Regions from separate parts of the Homo sapiens genome. Here regions 2 and 3 are each linked to region 1. The links come from fine-mapping of genetic effects on gene expression. A gene starts in region 1. Each other region holds a variant in brackets. All regions are shown on one strand. Distances are from middle to middle.

Region 1 (6,843 bases):
TCAACTCCTGGACAGAGAGAGAGAAAGAGAGACAGAGAGAGAGAGAGAGTTGAATGAAAAAAAGAAGGGAAGAGACCACTTTGTGGCCTTTTCACTTCAGGAATAATTGAGGGACTGCCAAATTTCTAACCCAGATTTAAAAATGCAAACACATTCACAAAGAGGACTAACGATTTGAAATGGCTCAAGTTGGCATTGACTCTAAGTGAGAAGGTGTGTGTGTGTGTGTGTGTGTGTGTGTTGTCTTAAAATAATTAATGTGAATAGCGAAAAGTAATCACGATAACATCAAGCCCTGCATGCCTGAGGGGAGAGTTTGCTGGACAAAAAACAGTCCCTTTACTAATAGCTTGTGAGAAGGTGAAAGTTGATTGCCTGACCACTCGTCTCTCTCCAGCGTTTCTCTAAGTCCGAGCCCCCATCTCTCCCAGTCCTCCCGGCTCAGCGAGGAATTCCTTTTCTTGACTTGTTTAAGTGCTGGTAACCCAGGGCTCAGTGGCTGAAGCAGCTGGGTGTCTAAAACCCCGATATCTGGCTGCCACTGGGGTTCCTCCTATGTGAATTGTGAGGTAGAATGAGGAAGAAGATCTGAAGTACATTCCTGGGACTTTGGAAATTATCATATTGAAAATTGTACTAGTAAATTGCAAAGACAACAAATAATGAGTCCTTCTCTACAGGCATTCTCAGATCCTGGTATCTCTACAACACAGTGGATATTTGAGGCAGGACGATGGATGGGGCCAGGTGTGAGAGCGAGAATCAAGAAACCTAGGATCAAGGAGTTTTACCAGAGCTTTGTGTGACCTCGTGCAATGTCACTTTAACCTGGATAGCGTCAGGTTTCCTCACGCATAAAATAAGATCAGATGATGCCCTCTTGGATTCTTTGACTGCAGGACAATCATTAGGCCATAGTGAACAGATGCGCTTGGTTGCCAGACCGCGCCCTTTGCGGGTCTATCAAAAGGGCAAGCGCATATTCTGGAGCTGTCTCGGAGACTTGGACAGAAAGATTCGAGGCAAATATTCTAGGCTGGGAAATTTCGCGCCGAGCCCCCCCCTCAGTTAGCCTGTCTAAAGGCTGGTGTGGCCAGAGCGAGGCAGAGAGCTCTGCACCTACTGTCGGGGCTGACAATGATTTATGCGCTTGTGACCCACGTAGACCATAAACCTAGTTTGCTAGACGTACAGGGAACTGCGCCGCAGTTAATGCAGAGGACTTATCCTCTGACCTGCAATGTCTCCCCACCTGGTGCTCTACAGCTCCAGAGAGCAGGGATTTCAGCTTTTCCTCCCTCATTGGATCCAATTTCAATCCCCTCGGTTAACTGAAAGTGTGTTGACTTCCACCCAGCCGGCAGGACCCTAAGGGCGCCTGGAGCAGTCTGGTGCGGGTCCTGGCTGCAGCATGCCCAGCAGAGCTCCGGGTGCAGGAGGCTGCAAAGCCACCGCCGCGTCCAGGCCCCTTGAGCGGAGGTGGGAACGATCCGCCTTAGAGTTCAAGGTGAATTGCTGTGACAGTGGCGGGTGGAGGAGGGGAGTTCGAGCCGTTCGCCTCGGGGAAGAATTATCCCCGATCATTTATTTTTAGATCTGAATTCCTCCAGAACCCAGCAGAGGCTGTGGCCAGAGCCCCAGGGCCAGGCAAGCGGCCAAGCTGCGCTCTCGATAAAGGAGCCAGAATGGTTCCATCTGGTTACAAACATATCTTTTTATTAAAAAGCAATCAGATCCTGAAGCGCTTCCCTTGCGGTTTACCGCTCTCCGCAGGCTGCTTCTCCGAAGCCAGCGGTGGTAGCGCCCACTCGGTTGAGCCCACGCCTCCGCCAGGCAGCGCCTCCGCCAGGCAGACCTCCTGCGGGACATTTTGTGGCCAGGGGGGTTCCTGCCCAGGGACCTCTAATAGGGTCGGTGGAAGCTAATTTGAATCTTCCCAGTTCCTTCCCTGTTTATTTCTCAACCCAGCAGTTCAAAAATTCACTTTATAACGGTCCCCTAACAAAAACACGAGTAAGAAAGATAGCAAAGAATTAAGCTGGACAGGCACCCATGTTGCGAAAAAGGTTTTGCTTGGAGACTGCAGGAGAGGGCTATCCCTCTTTACAATTCACGACGTTACTACCAACTTTGCCATTGAGTGGTTCCTCTCCCTGCCCGAATTCCTGGCCATCTTCGTTCCAGAGAGCGATGCAATCATGGCCTTGAAACCGAACGGGGCGTAACGTGCCATTCCTCTCCAGCTCCCGAGCCCCACTCCCACCCTTGCCGTTGAAACTGTGAAAAAGCCGCCAAAGTTTGGGCACCCAGCCTGGCAGTCGGAAGACAGTGAGATAAAGAATGCGATAGTAAGTCCTTAAGTGCTTCCTAGAGATAAGGTCCCGGAATCCTGGAAAAATTCAGTCTGGCCTCCCTACTTCAGCAAGTCGCCTCCTGCTTCTGTCAGCCCCCTCCCCACACACACCTGGAGGGAGAGGCGGTGGCCACAGGGGTAGCTGGGGCAGACCCTCCGCTCCTCCACTCCCGGTGGCCAGGGGTCCTAAGGCCACGCGGCTGGCTTTCTTCTCTGGGAATCAGGAGATGATAATGAGAAAATCCCTCAACCATTGGCGCGACGAAACTCAAAAATGGACAGCCCTCCCTTATTCATAAATATTACTTCAAATATGTTAAAGACGTTAAGTAATTTTTAGTCTCTTTAGAATTTCCAACGCTATAGTTTATTATGACAGATAAGGTTTGATTTGTGCTAGTCGCGTGCCAGGACACTGAAGGTGAAAAGAAGGAAAACAAGAAAGAGTTTCTAAAAGAATACACGTAACATTTAAGATAACTACATACAAAGTGCTCACTTAATTTCTCTTAAAACAGTTACAATGAATAAATTACATTTCCAACTTAATAAAATTTAATTCTCTTAGTCGTTTGTACAATTGATGGCCTTTGGTTATAAAATTTTACTTTTTGGAGAAATATTGCCCCTCTGTCAAATTATAGCACATGACAAATAATATAGCAAATAATAGGTTTGACTTTTAAACATACACAGTTATTTGAAACAAAATGTTTTTAACTTTCTGGCAGCATAGGCAAAACAGTAAAAGCACAGTTATATTTTAGGAATTATCTTAATACATTCCCCTCTATGATATCAGAACTTACTCCTGATTGAACCAAGGAAGAACAGCTAACTCTTCGGATAAAACAATTTTTTCTCCTTCATTCCCAGGCATGGTTTGGAAAGCAATAAATGCATATTTGCAAGAAGTCATGAAAAATCAAGATTAAAAATACTGTATAATCTTCCTGGTAAAACATATATACATTTTATATCTGACCATATGAAACTGTCATCTATAAGTATTACATTTTAATGAAGCATAACTCCTCATGATATATTTATTTCATAACAAATGGCAAAGGTAATATTACTTATCTTCAAGTATTTTTTCTTTTAAAAGCTCCTCCCACCAAATGAGAGACCTCTATTTAAACAGCAACTTCTATTGAAATATATGATCTGAAGGAATTCGCTATTTGAAAGTCTTTTGACAGCTTTACAGATTATATCTGTTGAGTTTTTTCTCTCTCTCTTATTTCCACAATTTACATGTGTGAATATATGGGTAACCCTCACTAACTTTTCAACATCAGTCACGCACATTAGGTAGAAAAAATTAATTTTGAAACTATTCTTTGTTTTTAAAATGATATATGTCATTACTGTTAGGTGAGTAAGCTAAGTGTGTTTTTTTGGAAGGGGAAGGTAGGTTAATCACAATGATAGAGCAAATATAAATAGTATTATGTTGTTGGTGTTAAAAGGCAAAACCTCTTAGTCTGTGAAGATCACCTACTTACCTTCTCTCCATTAAAAAAAGAGTTGAACTTTTTGGCTCCCTGTATAATGTGTGTTCTCCATAGATTTTATACTAAATATTAATATTAAGATTATAGAGCTAACCTTTTTCTAATGTCAAAGAGCTTTTGAACAATACAGGCACAAGAGAGAAAAGACACCTACCTCATACATTCACATCCCAAATTTCCTATCTCCAATGCAACAGGAATAATCTTTTTATTCCATTAAAATGGTCACTAACCTTATAATAATAAAGGCATGTTTTAATCTCTTACCTGAAGGAGTCTTATCAATGTAACAAGAACTGAAATTGTGACTGGTCCTTGTTGTCGTTTACAGTACAGAGATCTGTACTGTATTGCCTTTGTGGAGGGCTGAAGTAACAACATATGACTACTGCCTCCTGAGACCCTTATGAAAATAAGATATATAGCTGGTTCAAATAAATGTTTTAGGCCTTGACCCAGGAATATAATTGAGAAAAACAAATTATTTCACATACACTAAAACATAATTAAAATGTTATTCTAAGCTTTGCTTTTGTGTGTTATGTTGTATGTGCATACTAATGTTATCCTCAATCATAAAGCTATGTAAGAAATGATTGTACTTTTAAAAATGTTACGTAAACATCTTTTTTCCTAAAAGTGGCAAAAATTACCTTAGAAAGCAGTTACAGTGCAACTTTCACTTTTAAAGGTTTTCAAGATTGAATATTTTAATTCATAACATATTTCTCATTGTTAAAATTCTTTGGCTTCCTCATATCTGGCATTTAAAATTTTTCAGTTGTTTTGTAGACTATGTATGTAAGGTTGCATTTTTCACTGTCAACATAAAGTTATTGTTTGCTTTGGATTTAATATGTATTTGGATATGTATGCATATTTGTTTAAAACTATGAACTCTGGGGAGGGTTTTAATTCTATGCAACATAAGTCAGTTTTATATAATGAATATATACAACTTCAGCTAATAAAAAGTAAGATTTTAATCTTGACAATATATTCCTAAAATGCATTAAGATATTGTCAATCTAAAATGAGCTTGATTTGAGAACAAAAAGAATAAGTTCTTTTAATGAACTAGTGGTATATTGTTATATGTATATATGTTTTGCTGATTTTAGCAAGAAAATGGAAAATAATCCATAAGAAAATGGAAAATAATCCTCCTGCAAAAGAAACCTGAAGTGGATTACCTAATAAATTGTTTTCAGCCTGAATTTTAAGGTATCACGACATAGTCATGTTTGTTTTTTAAAATATCATTTTCAAAAATCAAAGACATTAATGGTATTCTCTATTTCAAAACTATGATCATTATTCTGCTTTTTGCCACCAATATTTATGCTAGGAGAAACATGTTTAAGAGTCATCAACACCTTGGGCTCATTGACCATACGAATGAGTCACATGGTCAAAATGAATAAAATGTTATTTAGAAAAAGGAAAAATATATATATATATTTATACATATGCATAGGTATTCTTTTTAAATGAATAAAAGGGCTTCATAATTTGGGACAGCAGAAAAAGGGAGTAGCAAGCATCACAGCCCAAAGCAAGAATGAAAGTAGCAATGGTGTCTAGACAAAGGAGCAAGGATATTTGCTTTTACAGTTAGTTTTATTTGGGATATCTTGGAAGAAAGAAGGGTAGGCTCTCAATGGCTAAATTAAATTATCTGGATGATTTGTCTACACAGAGCAATAATGACATCTCTTTTTGTTGTTGTTTGCTTTTGTTTTGTTTTTTGTTTGTTTGTTTGGAGACAGAGTCTCACTCTGTTGACCAGACTGGAGTTGCCCGGGCTGGAGTGCAGTGGCATGATCTCGGCTCACTGCAGCCTCCACTTCACGGATTCAAGAGATTCTCCTGCCTCAGCCTTCTGAGTAGCTGGGATTAAAGGTGCCCACCACCACACCAGCTAATTTTGGTGTTTCTAGTAGAGACAGGGGTTTCACCATTTTGGCCAGGCTGGTCTTGAACTCCTGACTTCAAGTGATCCGCCTGCCTTGGCCTCCCAAAATGCAGAGATTAGAGGCCTGAGCCACCGCGCCCGGCTCCTCTTCCTGATGTGCTATGTAGATACATCTCTAACAGGAAACTATAGATCCCCCAGCATTTGCTTTTGAAATAATTCAAAACTTTCATTTCAGTTAGGAAACACATTTTGCCAACATCATATTGTCTATCTTTTCCATTACATTCCCCATAACAATAGTTTTTAAATGAAGTATGCCTCAACTTAATGTTTATTATTAATGTAACAACTATTTGTTGACTGTTTACTACAATTCTCGGAGCACCAATGACTAAAACAAACAAAATAACCTTCCCTTGGTAGAGTTGGGGAACTTTTCCGCAGAGCATGGAAATTAAGGGGAAAAATCCTGTAGGTTTCAGGTTATCCACTAGGTGGCAAGGTGTGCAAAAGTGACTGCCTATTGCAGAGCAAAATTTGGTACAAAGAATGTGGCTTTCTATGAAAATTTCCACCATATTTTGTTTGTAATGATATTTGTAAAGTCTCTTTTTGAGCTCTACAGTTAATAGCTAACGGTCAGGATTCACTCTGTGTTCAGTTTTACAAAGCATTCTTTGCTTGGGGCTCATCTCTTCAAGAAGAGAGCCAGCTGTGTTCCCTAGTGGCCCATCTACAAGATCCCCCAGCTTACCTTAAGAGATTTTTCTCTTTTCCTCCCTATATTTCTCTGTGCCCCCAGATGTGTGGATTATGAAATCTGCCTAAGGGTCTGAACATCTGGCTTTGCAGAAGGACCACAAAGCGTTGGTTCAATTTTATTCAAATTTACCTAGATCAATTTAGATATCACACTTTGATTTGCTGATGTGGGGGGTTAGTGTCCAAAACACTAACATCTTACAATAACATCCATGCTGATAAGTAGTCAAACACATATGCCCATATGTACATACATGCAATTATGAATATATTTTATTTTCAGAGACTACTTA
Region 2 (6,843 bases), 100 kb before region 1:
ATAAACTCCTGAGGACAAATAACATATATTACAATTTACAATTTTTTTTGTTTCACCAAGAGTAATATACAAACAAAAAGTAATAGAAAAGTTGAAAGACACCCAGCACTTTGGGAGGCCGAGGCAGGTGGATCGCTTGAGCTCAGGAGTTTGAGACCAGCCTGCTCAACATGGTGAAACCCCGTCTCTATCAAAAATACAAAAAATGTAGCCAGGTGTGGTGGCGCAGGCCTATGGTCCCAGCTACTTGGGAGGCTGAGATGGGAGGATTGCTTGAGCCTGAGAGGAGGATGCTGCAGTGAGCCAAGATTGTGCCACTGCACTCCAACCTGGATGACAGAGTGAGACCCTGTCTCAAAAAAAAAAAAAAGAAGTTGAAAAACAGAAGAAACACACCAGCCTCAATACCTCCTTTCTTATTGTGTATATTAATATCTTTTAAGGAAAGACTCCAACCTTAATGCCTGATTTCTAATGAATCTCATAGTGGGAATTACTATCTCAATAAGAAGAAAAGAAATAAAATTGGCAAACAGCAGAAGTCTTGAGATGAGCATTACTTCATGGTACTTCTTGAGATTTCTCCTATATTACCCAGTCTGCTTGGCATTGTCTAGAAAAGGAGAGAGCAAAAAATGAAAGCAAAAATGAATCTGAAATGTTAGATATTTGGAAATGAATGAGAGACTGGTTTGAAGAAATATAAGAGAACAAAGACATGCTTGCATTTTGAAAGCCGTTTTCCATAAATTCTTCAAGAGCTGAATATGCTAATTTAGCACACTGAACCGGTGATTTGATTTATCCTGTTCTGGATTTCTGTAATATAAAGAAATTATACTACAGTGAATGTCTAAAAATAGCAAAGTGCAACCAATCATGTTCCTTATTTATTGAAAACCACTAAGTGAACGTGACATGAGTGGTTCTATTCATGATATTGAAAGAATTCCTTTTTATACCTCACAGAACAGAAAAGCCTTTTATCCTTTTAATCAGAACAACACCTTTCCAGATTATCTAACAAGTCAGAAAACCCATTTCTTATAGTATGATATGGCATGTTTTAGGTTGCTGGTCAAAACCTCCTTTAATTAAATTGGTCATATATATGAACCCAAAGTATTTAGAATTAAGGTCTCTGTAGTAAGACTAACCCATTTAATTTTCTTATTTATGCTATTCATAACTGAAGGAAATTTAAAGAAACTGCTAAATACTGCCCATTAATTTTCTCCTTGCTCAATTTTGATGTAGAAATAATTTCGCTTTTATTTGTTTACCAAGAAGTACCATATTTAGGAACATTTAGCTAGACGTTTCAAAGCTATAAATAAAATTCTAACTTAATTCTGCAAACTGTTTCGTACCCCAATAACTAGAACCATAGAAAATAACTGGCTGGCTGCCAAAAAGTAAGGCGTGGGATAGAAAGCCTTTCTAGTATTCAAGTTTCTGAAATGAGAAATTTAAATGAATGCTCCTTATGATGTCAAGAAATCTCCATCCTGCTTAGTCCAACTCAAATATTTCCAGTTTTCAAGTTAGTATCTCTGTTTAAAATAAGCAAATGTGGATTGGTCTTCAGTGTTTGTCTGGATACTTTCTGGCAGTGGAGAAACGGGCATGCAAGGGTTCCCAGATTCACCCCACAGCCTCGCATTAGAGCAAAGGTGTTAATTTCCCTTGTAATTTTTCCTTCTCAATAACAGCATGCTCAAACCCAAATATTTCTCAGTATATTATTACAATTTTAAAAAATTGCTGGCTTATCCAATTCTGATCTGAAAAACCTTTCTCTAATTAGTGTCTTTGCAAAACTGAACTCAGGCAAATTTTAATCCCTCATTTACTGATTTTATTTTAATACTATTACTCAGCATATGTTGGCTGCATTAAACCATTACAGTAAAAATTAAAATGAAAGTCATATGATTTATTCCCCTTTAAAAGTGCTCAATTGGTCTAGTAAAAGTCAAGTGCCAAATACCAGATGTCGGATTTAAAAGAAATTCTGAACAAGAAGGAAAAAACCCTCCCATTACTCTCTTAAGATATTTAGTTGAAATTAATGCCATCCCAGAAAAAAATAATATTAACATATGAATACATTAGTCTGAATATATTTGATTTAAGAAAGAAGAGATGCAGGGAATAAAAATAAAAATATATTAATATTTATTGATTTAAACCCCGCTTTTGAAAACTACATTTGTATTGCTGTTACACACAATTTTCAAGCCAACTTGATATTTTACAAAGAAAATTAGAGTGGTTGTTTCAATTTAGAATGCAGAAGGTCAGAATAGGAAGACAAGAAATAGTATAGATACTTATATCAAGTTTTTATTACTTTTCCTCCAAACTTTTGTTTCTCCTCACTATTTATCAGCATAATTTTTAACCAAAATCCACTTCCTGGAAAAATAAACTGATGTGCTGAAGTTAATAGAAAGATATGTTCAAAAGAAATAGCCAAATAAAGATAACTACCTTTTCAGTTCTTATCATACTTTCAAGACAGCTATTTCATATTCAACACTCCTAAAACATAGTTATTCCCCAACTCCAGATCTTTGCCTACATTACTTTTTTCTTTCAAAAATTGCTGTTCTCTTTCCAACAGTTAAGACCTACACCTCAAAGATGGTCTAACTATAGCATTTCTTCCATAATTTTTTAAAAATTATTCCTCCCCCACCCACTCTGCCATAACTACAATGCTGCTATAGTGGTCACTGGCTAGCAATTCCCAAAACACTACTGCCTTTCTCCCTGGATGCGGCAAGATTACAGTCCCCGGCTTTCTTTTTTAGTAAGGTATGGCCATGTGAAAGTAGACTGACCAATGGGCTGTCCGCAGAAGTAGTTATACCCTCTGTATGGGTATTTCCTTTCACTGTGCTGGCTGCATTTGATTGGCAGTATGATCGTGGCGGAAGTCCGTGCTGGAGGTGGTAGTTCTGGGGTTCCTGATGGCTCCATGCGGTAGATCCTGCCCTCCTGTTCACCCCAAACCCCAAACCCAGCCCTCCGTCCTATTGAACTTTACATAGCATAAAATATTATACTGTGTTTATCCACTGAGATTTCTCAGTTCCTCAGCAGCTGACAATATCTTAACTAATGTAAGTAAAATTATGATCTCTCAGTTGACAGAATATACATAATATTTTGTGTTTTTCTTGTCACTGCCTATATTCTCCTTATTTGTTAATGATACCTCTTCTGACAAGTTCCTTAAAGTCAGGAACTCCTCTTTTTTTTCAGCTTTTATTCCTTACAGCCTCTGGTAATAAGTAGATGCCTAATGAATTGCTCTTTATCTGTCAATCTGAGTTTATTATGCTACCCAAAACTAACAGTCTCTTGGTTCATTCATTTATTATTTTATTCATTTATTTATCCAAAATATCTGTTGCATCTTTGCCATTTGTCAGTGCATTAGACACCTTTGGGATATCTTCCCAGCTCACATTAACTCCCCATTCGTAAGGGGTGACCTTCGACAATAGTCTCAGTGCCTAAGCTTGTGGCTGACTTGACCAGAGTACATTATCTCACTCAAGCTGGGCCAGTTAGATCCGGTCCCCAGGCAAGTTGCTAGGAAATAGCTAGTTCATCCTAGCTCATGACTGAAATTGTACTCTACCTACTTGAAAGCATTGGCAGCTATGTAATGCCACATTGACCTAAGAAGCCCAAAAAAGTATAGAGCAAAGAGGAAAAATAAAATAAGCACCCCCAAAACGTAAAACCCTGAAGCCTCTCCATGGCCTGTCTGCAATTATTTCCTTAGACCAGCCTGAATTCTACCACTGTGCTCTATAGCTTAACTATACATTACCTGTTTTGTATAAGCTATGTCAGGATGGCTCCTGTTACTTGCAACTAATAAAATTTTAATTAATAAAACAAGACATTTTGCTTTTCCCAGGGATACAATGATGAACAAGAGATATATAGCTCTTACTCTTATAGTAAAACCAGTAGGTGGCAATTCAGTAACTTTGCAAGGGAAAAAAATGAACTTATTTTTCAACCCTCTCAGATGCTGATTTTCCTTCCTTTTGAAGAAAAAGATTTGGGGGTGATTTTCATTTGTGCTACACATGAAACAAGAGTTTTATTATTCATGATAA[T/G]ATCACTTTCTCCTCTCCTAATGTTTTTTCTCTTGTTATTTTGCGATTCCAAAGTGTAACAAAAATTGTAAATTTAAACATCGGAAAAAGAAGTCAAATACATCTGTGTTGAAAAGAGAAAGGTGGGAAACTTTGAATTGGGGTGATGGTAATGGCGATGTGACAAAGTGGAAAGATATAAAACATTAGTGAGATGAAAGACGCGGAACTTAGGAACTAACTACACACAAGAACAACAGAGGGGAGAACCAAGATGGCTGTGTTTCAAGCATGAGTCACTAGGAAAATGGCGCAAGACCAGGATGCTGGTTAAAGGGAAAAAAATGACACATGGCATATTGCTGCATTTCAGAAAGTCTCCATTCTCAGGGTACATCAAGATATTTTGGAGATCTTTGAAAAGATACAATTGCCCCTCCTTCAGCCCCAGAGATGATGAATCCATTGGTCAGGAGTGATTCTGTGTATTAGTGTTTTTAAAAACCCATGTTGATGGGATTGAGAACAAAATTCATTTGAAGTGTCTGGCTCTTCCACAAAAGTATTTGCTTGTTTACTTTCTAAAAGATGTTTCTTAGTAGACTCTGGGGACTTCAAAAGTGTGGAGGGAGGAAGAGGGCAAGGGTTGCAAAACTTCCTTTGGGTACTATGTTCACTATTTGGGTGATGGGTTCAATGTCAGAAACCTGCATGTGTAGCCCCTGAATCTAAAATTTTAAAAGAAAAATAAATCAATTTAAAACTAAAAATTTTTTTTTATTTAAAATAGTAAAACACTGTACAGAAAACTTGAAAACCATGCCACTTAGTAATATGGAGTTGAAAATTAAGGCAGAAGATAAGAGGAGGAATGAAAAAATGAAAACAAAGCAAAATACCTATTAAGTAATACAGAGGATGGAAAGGAAAGGGTATATTCTGTAAGTCCTGCAGTTTCTTTTCCTTACCTCAGATACTGAAGCTTCTAACAGAAAATCCAGAAGACTCTGGGAAGTAGGTGAGGTTTGACTTCAATTCCTCTTCTTGCTGAATTCCCAATCTTTCCGTGCCTCTCACACCACACTCAGTAATTGCCTGTTGCTTTTACTTACACAGACACTCCTAATCACTGACTTCAGCTTTTCTCTTCATTGCTTTCTGGGATGGAAAAGAAGGAATAGTTAGCTAGGGAATTATCCAAAGCATCGTTAATAATTACCTACAAAACAATTCGCTTCTATAGCTACTGAATGAATGAATAAGTTGCTACATAAGAATCAACTACAATTCTTTCCTTTTTCTCCTCTTCAAAAGGAAAAAAGAGAAGAGGCATTATCTACTATTTATTAAACTGAACTTAAACAAGAGATGAAACCTAACGCAGCTTCTCCTCCCTTACAGAATAGGTAAAACAGATATGAATCAGTGAAGCAGAAACCATGTAATAGAAAAAGTGGAATATAATGAATTTGGATTTGATGATGTTTTACAAGCAGATATCGCAAGTCAAATTTCACAGCAGTAAAAACAACAGAAGTCCACAAAGGATAGATGAAAACATGTCTCTCTCCTGTCTCTCTCCAATCTCTGTGTGTGTGTGAGAGAGTGTGTGCGCGGGCGTGTGCGTGTGTGTGCGCGTGTGTGTGTGCGCGTGCGTGCGTGTGTGTGCGTGCGTGCGTGTGTGTGTGTGGTGTAGGGAGAGGGATAGATTCCTTTTCAAAAAGTGTCCAGAGGGGGAAAAAAAATGCATCATGCCACCTAGTGGCGGAAATTAAGTTGATTCCTTTTAACTCGACAAAGCGACTTTGCCTTTCTTTAGAAAATCAGATGAATTCATTAACATAGTGGAATCTTGATTTGGCAAACTACACAGTAGTTAAAATGTAAATACCAGGTCTATGTTTTAATTTTTCATCCACCAATGGCATTAAGAAATATGATGAACTTTAAAGAGCCCTGAAGTCAGAAGCAGGATATCTTTCCTTCTCTTTCGACCAGGTCACTTAACCACCCTGGAGCTCAGTTTCCTCCATAAAGGGCCAGAATAGATGAACTCTTAGCTCTTCAATTCCATGTTTCAAAGTATGCAATAGACCACATAATCAGGGTACTCTTATCTAATGCAGTTCCTTGTGACAAAGTCAGGCCACCATCTTCACTGATTAAACGCCGGATGACACAACATGCCTTCTACACTTTCAGCCTCATTCCAGTCACATTTTACAGAGTCCGTGCTTCATTGCAAGCCTTTCTTTATTACTGCTTTGCATTATTGGATGTCTGCTGCTGAGAGTCCCTAGATTACAATTCTTAACTTCTGTGAACTGCAGTGGTGCATATTTGTGATGTATTTTTCTAACTTACGTGAATGTCCACAAATTCCCCTTTGAAATCAAGTAAAGTATTCCTCCAAGAGAAAAAGAAATAGTTTGGAATTATGTAGCAATATTTTTCAGACATTGTGAAGTATAATTGCCCCTTTCTCCCACTCTCACTAATAATATACATCCATAATGATATACATCTGTGAATCAGATTTAGAAAGGGCATTAAAAGCAACAATTAATCTGGGCTATCCAGAATACATAATCTCCTACTAACTAATCTGTCCTTGTAACTTAGCGACTAAAGTGTGAACATTTTGTTTTAATTCAAAAAGAAATAAAATTTTCTTAAAATATAAGATTTTCTTTTTTATTTATTTTATTTTATGTATTTATTT
Region 3 (6,843 bases), 110 kb before region 1:
TTTCAATGGCTAAGATAATCAAATAAATATTAAAAATATTAAAATTTCCTAATCACCTCTAATTCATTTATAAGGACTAACCACAGATAAGATGATTTAGGTTTCAAAAGAAGCCACATGAAGTAGTGAAAAGAGCACAGAAATGTAAGCTTGAAAATCTATATTCTATTCTGTTCTCTGTTCTGACCCATTTGTAGGATACTGGCAAGTGACTTAAGATCTTTAAATCCCAGTTCATTAATTGAAGAATAAAATGTTTGGATTTGTTGGTATTTAAGATGTCTGGCAACAATGGAATTTCTTGACTCTATGAAAGATGAGACTTATTGAGAAATAGAGGTAACTTTATAACACTGAAAGCCTATCCTAGTTAGATGCAGTAGGAAGGCTCATGAGCAACGTTTTCTTAGAAACCAGAATTCTTGCTTATTTTGGATTTACCACCACTGTTATAAGGAGCAAAAGAAAAACTTTTCCATCCTGGTTAGAAGATAAAAGGATGAGTTAAGATCATATGTCACAGATCTCAAGCCAGCAAAGTTTATAGGTAGAATAATTTAAAAATAAGCAAGTATGTAATCTACATCAATGAAAACATGGGAAACTTGTTTTTTTTTATCATTAATTAGAGCAACAAAACTGGGCAGTGGGGGTGGGGGCAAAGGCTTCTTAAGAGAAATTAATCTCAGTTTCATGCCTCAACTTGAAATGTACCAAACTTTCAGGTAATAGATTTATTTCATAGAAAGCAAAAAGAGAATATGTATTGAAAAAATTATTCCAAATAAAATGAAAATAATTTCCAGCAAAGATTAATATTGCTCTTAGAACTTAAGGTACAGGAATTTTTTTAAAAAAAGAGATTTCATATTCAGAAATATTCTCATAGCAGGAACTTTTTCTAGCGTAATATTAGAAAATTTCCTGAATATTATAGTAGTGAGAAACTTCATTTTAATTTAAATCTATTTTGCTGTTAGATTTCACACACCAAACATCCTATTAGTCTAGGTGGTTCAATTGCATAATAACAGTATTTTTTATCGCTTTAGATGATCTCTTTAGATCTGCTGGATAATTTTATCAATGAGAGAAAATGAAGACTGTTATTTGATTACTCGAGTCTTGAGACAATCATAAGTATTTAGATTCATAAAGCCAAATAAACAAAAGGGGGGTTTGTTGCTGGCCATATGATGAGCACCTAGCTTCTCTGTCGTTAAAAGTTTCCTCACACCTTACGATGTAACAAAACATTTCACAAATAGCCAGAAAGAAAATCAGATTCTTGTGAGGCTTCTCAAGATAGTTATTGTGAATGTTTGTGCATAAACATTCTGAGACAGACAGGGGTGCGCACCCTCCTGCACCCCACCGCCACACACAACCTATCTCAGAAATTTGCGAAAACATAGTCTAACAGTTTCTGTGGAAAATGCCTCATTAATCTTGGGTGAATCACCATAGGAACCTGTGGAAGGTGAAATCTTGAACAGGATGGAGCCTTCTCATCAGTCATTGATTAGTGTTAGAAATAACTCCTACTGTTTCATGTTACCTACAATCTTCAAAGTAATAATGGTTTTCAGTACAGAAATAAGTTAGAAATATTTCGAAGATAATGACTCAGATGTTATTTTAGAATTCCCCATTACACTAAATATCTAAAACAATAAAATGTTTACAGTTATACTTTGTTCTCTGCCCGATTTTTTCTAACTTTCCACGAATTCTCCTGTATCTCTGGATTATCTATGCCTCTGTTCTCAATTAAAATCTCCAAAGAATGGAAAGACTGAAATACAAGAAAAAGAGACAGAAGCTACAAGAGAAGAGAGAAGAAATAAAAAAGAAAGACAGGAACTTCACGTTCTTAAAATAAAAGGTAAAACTTCCCTTCTAGACTCTATTGCTCAAGATTTTCAGCATTGACCGCGATAACAAAAACTTCTAAGGCTTTTCAAAGTAAGTCTTTCGAAAAATTTCACTTATTTTTTTAACTCACTAACTATATCCAGAGGGAAACAAAATTCAACTGAAATATGAAACTCTCTTGGATGTCATAGACAGCCCATACTACATGTTTTCCAAAAGGGAGGAAGTTTTCCAAAAATTTGTAGAATGAGGTAGGTGTTTGTTCATTCTGGGCAAATCATCCATTAACACTCAGAAGACTTTTAAGTATGCCATGAGAGATTCTACCCATAGTCTCTATAGCACTTGTATTTCTTCAGCTAATTATATGAACACATTAATTAACAGTGGCAAGGACAAGCCTCAGCCCTCTAAAGGCAGGCAGTGACTTTACAATTCACAGAGAATAAATTGGAATCAAAATAAGGCTTGGCTTCTGTCAATGGTGTGCTGGTGCGTGTGCCAGGCTTAACGCCAGGCTTTCCAAAAGGGAAATAAATAAATATGTATATATGTATATATTATATATATATATATATATATAATATACCTGTGTTTATTATTTCTTATAAATTTTACTAATATACACAATGTATAGTATACAAATTATAAGTAATAATGAAATACCTAAAACTATTTTACATTTTATATAGCCAATTTATTCTCACAGAAGGCTTTTGTTTATTTTTGCCAGATTCTTAAATCCATAATCAATCTTTTTACAATTAATGAATGCGGTATCAACGTGAATGTTGGCTAATATTCCATTTACCTTAACAAGCAAGGTGAAAGTAAACACGTCAAAGTATGTTGGAACTTTATTCATGTATCAGGGATGTGTTCCTTTGCTGAATCAGATAATAGTTTGCAAAAACAGTACTGGAAGGATATGTCATCAAATTGTGTGCTATTCACAAGGTAGCAGCTACAGCTACAACATCCACATCCTTTTAGGTTTGATCTGTGTTCTTAACATTTCTTCCATAGCTTCCTCAAGTCTAGACTACCAAAAATAAATAAATAAATATTAAAGGCTTGATTCTTAGTGTTTGCTGATTTCCATGGTTTAAGTACTCCCACAATGACAGAATTTAAGCTACCAAAATCCCTGAACACGGAGTTTGGAAGAGATATGCAATAGCACAGCATTATATAGTATTTCCACCAGACGGACACAATAATTATAAATAATCTCAAGAGCACAGATAATATTATGATGTAAGTTAATTAGAAACTAGTGAATTTTGATTATTACCTTTCCTTTTGGTATAATTTATTTAATTGTAAGTTTAACCACTCCAATTTTCATTATTGGCTGTCTTTAACAACCAGATCACAAAATACCTGACTATTTAATAATCTGTTCTTGTGAGCCAGTGTGAACCAGCTACGGCACTTCACTGCCTCTTGTTCAAAGTTTACTGGGAACTTGAGTACTGAACATTTTGTTACAGCTTCATGAATCTAAATTCCTGTCCAGGTAAAAGATTACTGGAGTTACCAGAAAAGAATTTTGTTTAACTTCATCTAAGACTAAGACTATACCACTTAATAAGTCCTAAATTTGACAAATGCTTTTGAAACTTAATTTGTTAACATTATGAACTTCTTACCTCAATGTGTATTTACACATCACTGAAGAACAATAAAGGGTAGTTTACATGGGTTGACATGCTACATAGGCTTAAGGGCTTTCTGTTTCTTTGTTTCCAAAACAGATTACAGTGATCAGAATAGAGGTAGCAGGCAAATAGTCTGCTTATTCTCGCTGAAGCCATTCAGAGCAAAATTTATTTATACTATAAAATGCCAAGGCCTATAAAATTCCCAAAGCCCCATCTTTAAGAATGTAAGCAACAGATACTTGGATGTACAGACCAGAGTTTGGCCAGAATTCCATTAAGTGATCTTGAGTCCTATCAAAAAGCTAAGCTAAAAGATACATTAAAATAAGTAATATATTTAGTTGTGAATAAAACTG[T/TGC]GCCTCTAAAAAGTGAAGAGACAGTGACAAAGCAGAAGGACCAAGAGGGCCAGGAAGGTGGCCTCAAAGAGGGTCTGAATCGAAATTCCAGTCAAGCGGCTACACTAACCATGTAACTTTGGGAAGTTATTCAATCAGTCTAATCTTCAATTTCCTCAAAGATAAATTAGAGATGGCAGTACTATCAGGATTATATGAGAGACTATTTGAACATCACCTGGCACATAGTAGCAGATCAGTAAGTGACAGTATCATGAAAACATACTCCCTTCTGCCTAACCAGAAAGGCGAAGACTCAGGTGGGAACCTCATTGCGAATACGTGTGAGTAATTACTCAAGATTCTTTCTCTTGGAAGATTTTATTCAAAGGTGAAGTAAGCAAATACTAGCATTAGCTCCAAGGCTACCTCAGCCCCCAAATATCTACAACACACAGTTGGAGTTTGTCCTTTGAGTTAAGGCAATGCACATGAAATATGGGACTCTGAAGCTATACAGTATTTGATCACCATCAAATACAAGATATTTGGAAGTACTGCTAAACCTCTGCAGTCTGTTACAAAACAATAATAAAGCAGAGGTGTTAAATATCTGCTATCTGCTATTGAAAGAAATACAAACCATTCAAAAGGCACAATTTAGATATGATGAGATTAGAAAATTCCATTTTAGATGCATATTTTACCTGAAATTGATTTCCTTAGCCCTCAGTAGCCACTAATTTATTAATCTGTATTAGTTTTTCCATTTCATTTTTCTGAGAGAAGGTGGAGCAAAGAACAGGTAACTGATTTAGGTGAGGATGGGAAACTCCTACCACCTGGGAGGGCAGTCTTCACGGCATGAGGCAGTGATGGGCTTGGGCTGACCGCAGCTACTGGGGAGCAATGGGGGGCAAGACAAGGGAAGAGCTGCTCCAAACAAAATGATTTCATTTTCTAGTTTTTTTGTGAAAACACTTCTGTCCACAGTCATAAAATCACTTTCTTTGAGATACACAATATTTTCTTGGCTATTCTCATTAATATAGCAATATTATAACAATTTTGTAAATTTTAAAGAAATTACTGGGACCTTTAACTGCAAAAGTCATCTTGTGAGGTAATGAACAAAAAAGAAATGCTTCAACTGAATTAATAGTACTTCTTCATGCTTGTAGGACTCTAGAAAAAGTGTATGAGCTAGAATTTTGGAAATAGCACGTAACAGAAACAACAGCCAAGTGGGAAATTAAAGTCCAAAAGCAAAAGCAGTGGCAGTTCCAGAATGTTTCCAAAGGAGAGGCATAGGGGTCATCTTTTAGGTGGAAAGAAAACTAGGGAATTTTCCTTGATACAGTATTTGCAGAGTTTTTGCTTACAGGATATATTTATTTAGAGTAACTTGGTACCAGGAGTTGGAGGGGGCCCTGACGGAGATTATGAGTGAAATAAAGTCCCTACAAGACAAAAAAAAAAAAAAGTCTCACATTTCTTTGCCCATATACCTGGAATTGCTAAAATGAGAAGGGAAAAAAATCTAAAATTATATCCTTAGCTGAAAAACTTTACCCAATATTTTTCTGCTTATAAGAAACTAAGTTTAATCAATAATCAACATTGATTGCCTACAATATGTTTGGCATAGAAATTGGTACTGGGTAGGAACAAAATATGTTCTCTGCCCTCTTGTTGCTTAAATCAGGAGAGAAGACGGACATCAGGCAAGAAAGTGGTGTGATTGGTTTCAGAGGAGGAGGAAGGATGAGTGGAGATTCAACCTGGTCTAGAGGGTCGGCGAGGTCTCCCTGAGGAAGTGGCATTCCAAAAGGGGTTGCCTAGGCAAAAGCTGTGAGTTAAGGGGTGAGAGAGCTGAAAGGAGAACAGGAACAGAAAACATTTCTAGCAGAAGGAACTGAGTGTGGGAAACTCAAGAAGCAGAACGATAAAGAGTCTGAGGAATTTAAAAATCCTATCTGTCTGGAGCCGTGAGGGTGTTATCGGCCAAAGTCTGTAAGAAACAGGAAAACCACATTGGTAAGTCTAACAAAGAGAATTGAGAATTGCTTCATAGGCATGAGACAACAAAAGACTATAACTTCAAGAAACAGGAATCCCTAAGGCTAGGAGTACAAGGAGAAGAGAATAGGGTTACTAGAACCTAGAAGCTTGGAGGAGGGACCAGAGCTGGAACCTAGACCTCGGAGCAAGGGACTCTGGCCAACAGATCCTGATGGTATCTGTGGGGACACAGTGAGGCTGTTTTGGGTTTTGCAGGGAGGCTGGAGCCCACTGCTATTAGGGTGAAGAGCTCCTGCTGGGGTGATCTGCATACTCGGGAAAAACTCAAAGGAGCCTGCAATCACCCCTACCTCGTTGTTGCCAGCAGCATCTCATCCTTATGCTGCTGTTGTAAGATCAGGAGGCTGTTGCCCTAGTCTAGGTGAGAGAAGGCAGTGACCTGGACTGGGGTGATGTGTAGCAGTTATTTAGTAATATAAAATCTGAAGAATTTGTGATGGATTACACTGGAAACGGAAGGAAAGGGAAAGAACAAGGACAACTCATAGATTTCACCGGAGCAAGTAGGTGGGTGCTAAGGCCATGAACCAATACAGGGTTCCAAGTAAGAAAGGAGGGGTTGAAGAACAGAAGTTTAATTTGGGACGCCTATAAGGCATTCAAGCAGGAAGAGGGGCTAGAGCTTGGGGGACATAAGTGATCTAGAAATATAGTTTGGAAAACTTAGGTAGGACAGATAGTAGCTGAAGCCATGGAAATGAGTAATCTAGCCTAGGAGGGTATTTAGGTCACCAAAGAGGGCTTGGACAATGCTGGAGCAAACTTTTAAAGGAAGCTGTACCATACATGAGCTAAAATGCTTCTCTTTGATCATCCACACGTACAGCCGTGAACTGGAGAATTATCACTGAAATATGAGAGACAGCAACATACCAGCAGAAGAAAAG

Which allele goes with the higher level. Positions count from the first base shown, and alleles are read on the strand shown. Sizes are in standard deviations (SD) of each study's normalised expression. Not every link is listed here.
In carriers of allele TGC in region 3, the expression in nucleus accumbens of the gene that starts at base 4,222 in region 1 tends to be higher than with T alone (large effect, 1.0 SD a copy in GTEx).

Evidence for each region. PIP is the estimated chance that this variant, and not a neighbour inherited with it, causes the effect.
Region 2: its variant is fine-mapped to the expression of LINC02268 in cerebral cortex (GTEx, PIP above 0.99). The same link has a PIP of 0.9 or more in anterior cingulate cortex and caudate.
Region 3: its variant is fine-mapped to the expression of LINC02268 in nucleus accumbens (GTEx, PIP above 0.99). The same link has a PIP of 0.9 or more in prefrontal cortex.

The regions. Positions count from the first base shown.
Region 1 is chr4:174,216,177-174,223,019 of GRCh38, forward strand. LINC02268 (long intergenic non-protein coding RNA 2268) reads right to left here and starts at 4,222. Exons shown (of 5, transcript NR_125896.1): 1 at 4,138-4,222.
Region 2 is chr4:174,114,808-174,121,650 of GRCh38, forward strand. It overlaps LINC02268 (long intergenic non-protein coding RNA 2268), which reads right to left. Exons shown (of 5, transcript NR_125896.1): 2 at 5,090-5,279. Among named protein-coding and RNA genes, the nearest start is that of LINC02268, 100 kb to the right of the region's middle. The variant T/G (reference allele first, on the strand shown) is at 4,143.
Region 3 is chr4:174,102,044-174,108,886 of GRCh38, forward strand. All of the region lies in intron 2 of LINC02268 (long intergenic non-protein coding RNA 2268), which reads right to left. Among named protein-coding and RNA genes, the nearest start is that of LINC02268, 110 kb to the right of the region's middle. The variant T/TGC (reference allele first, on the strand shown) is at 3,896.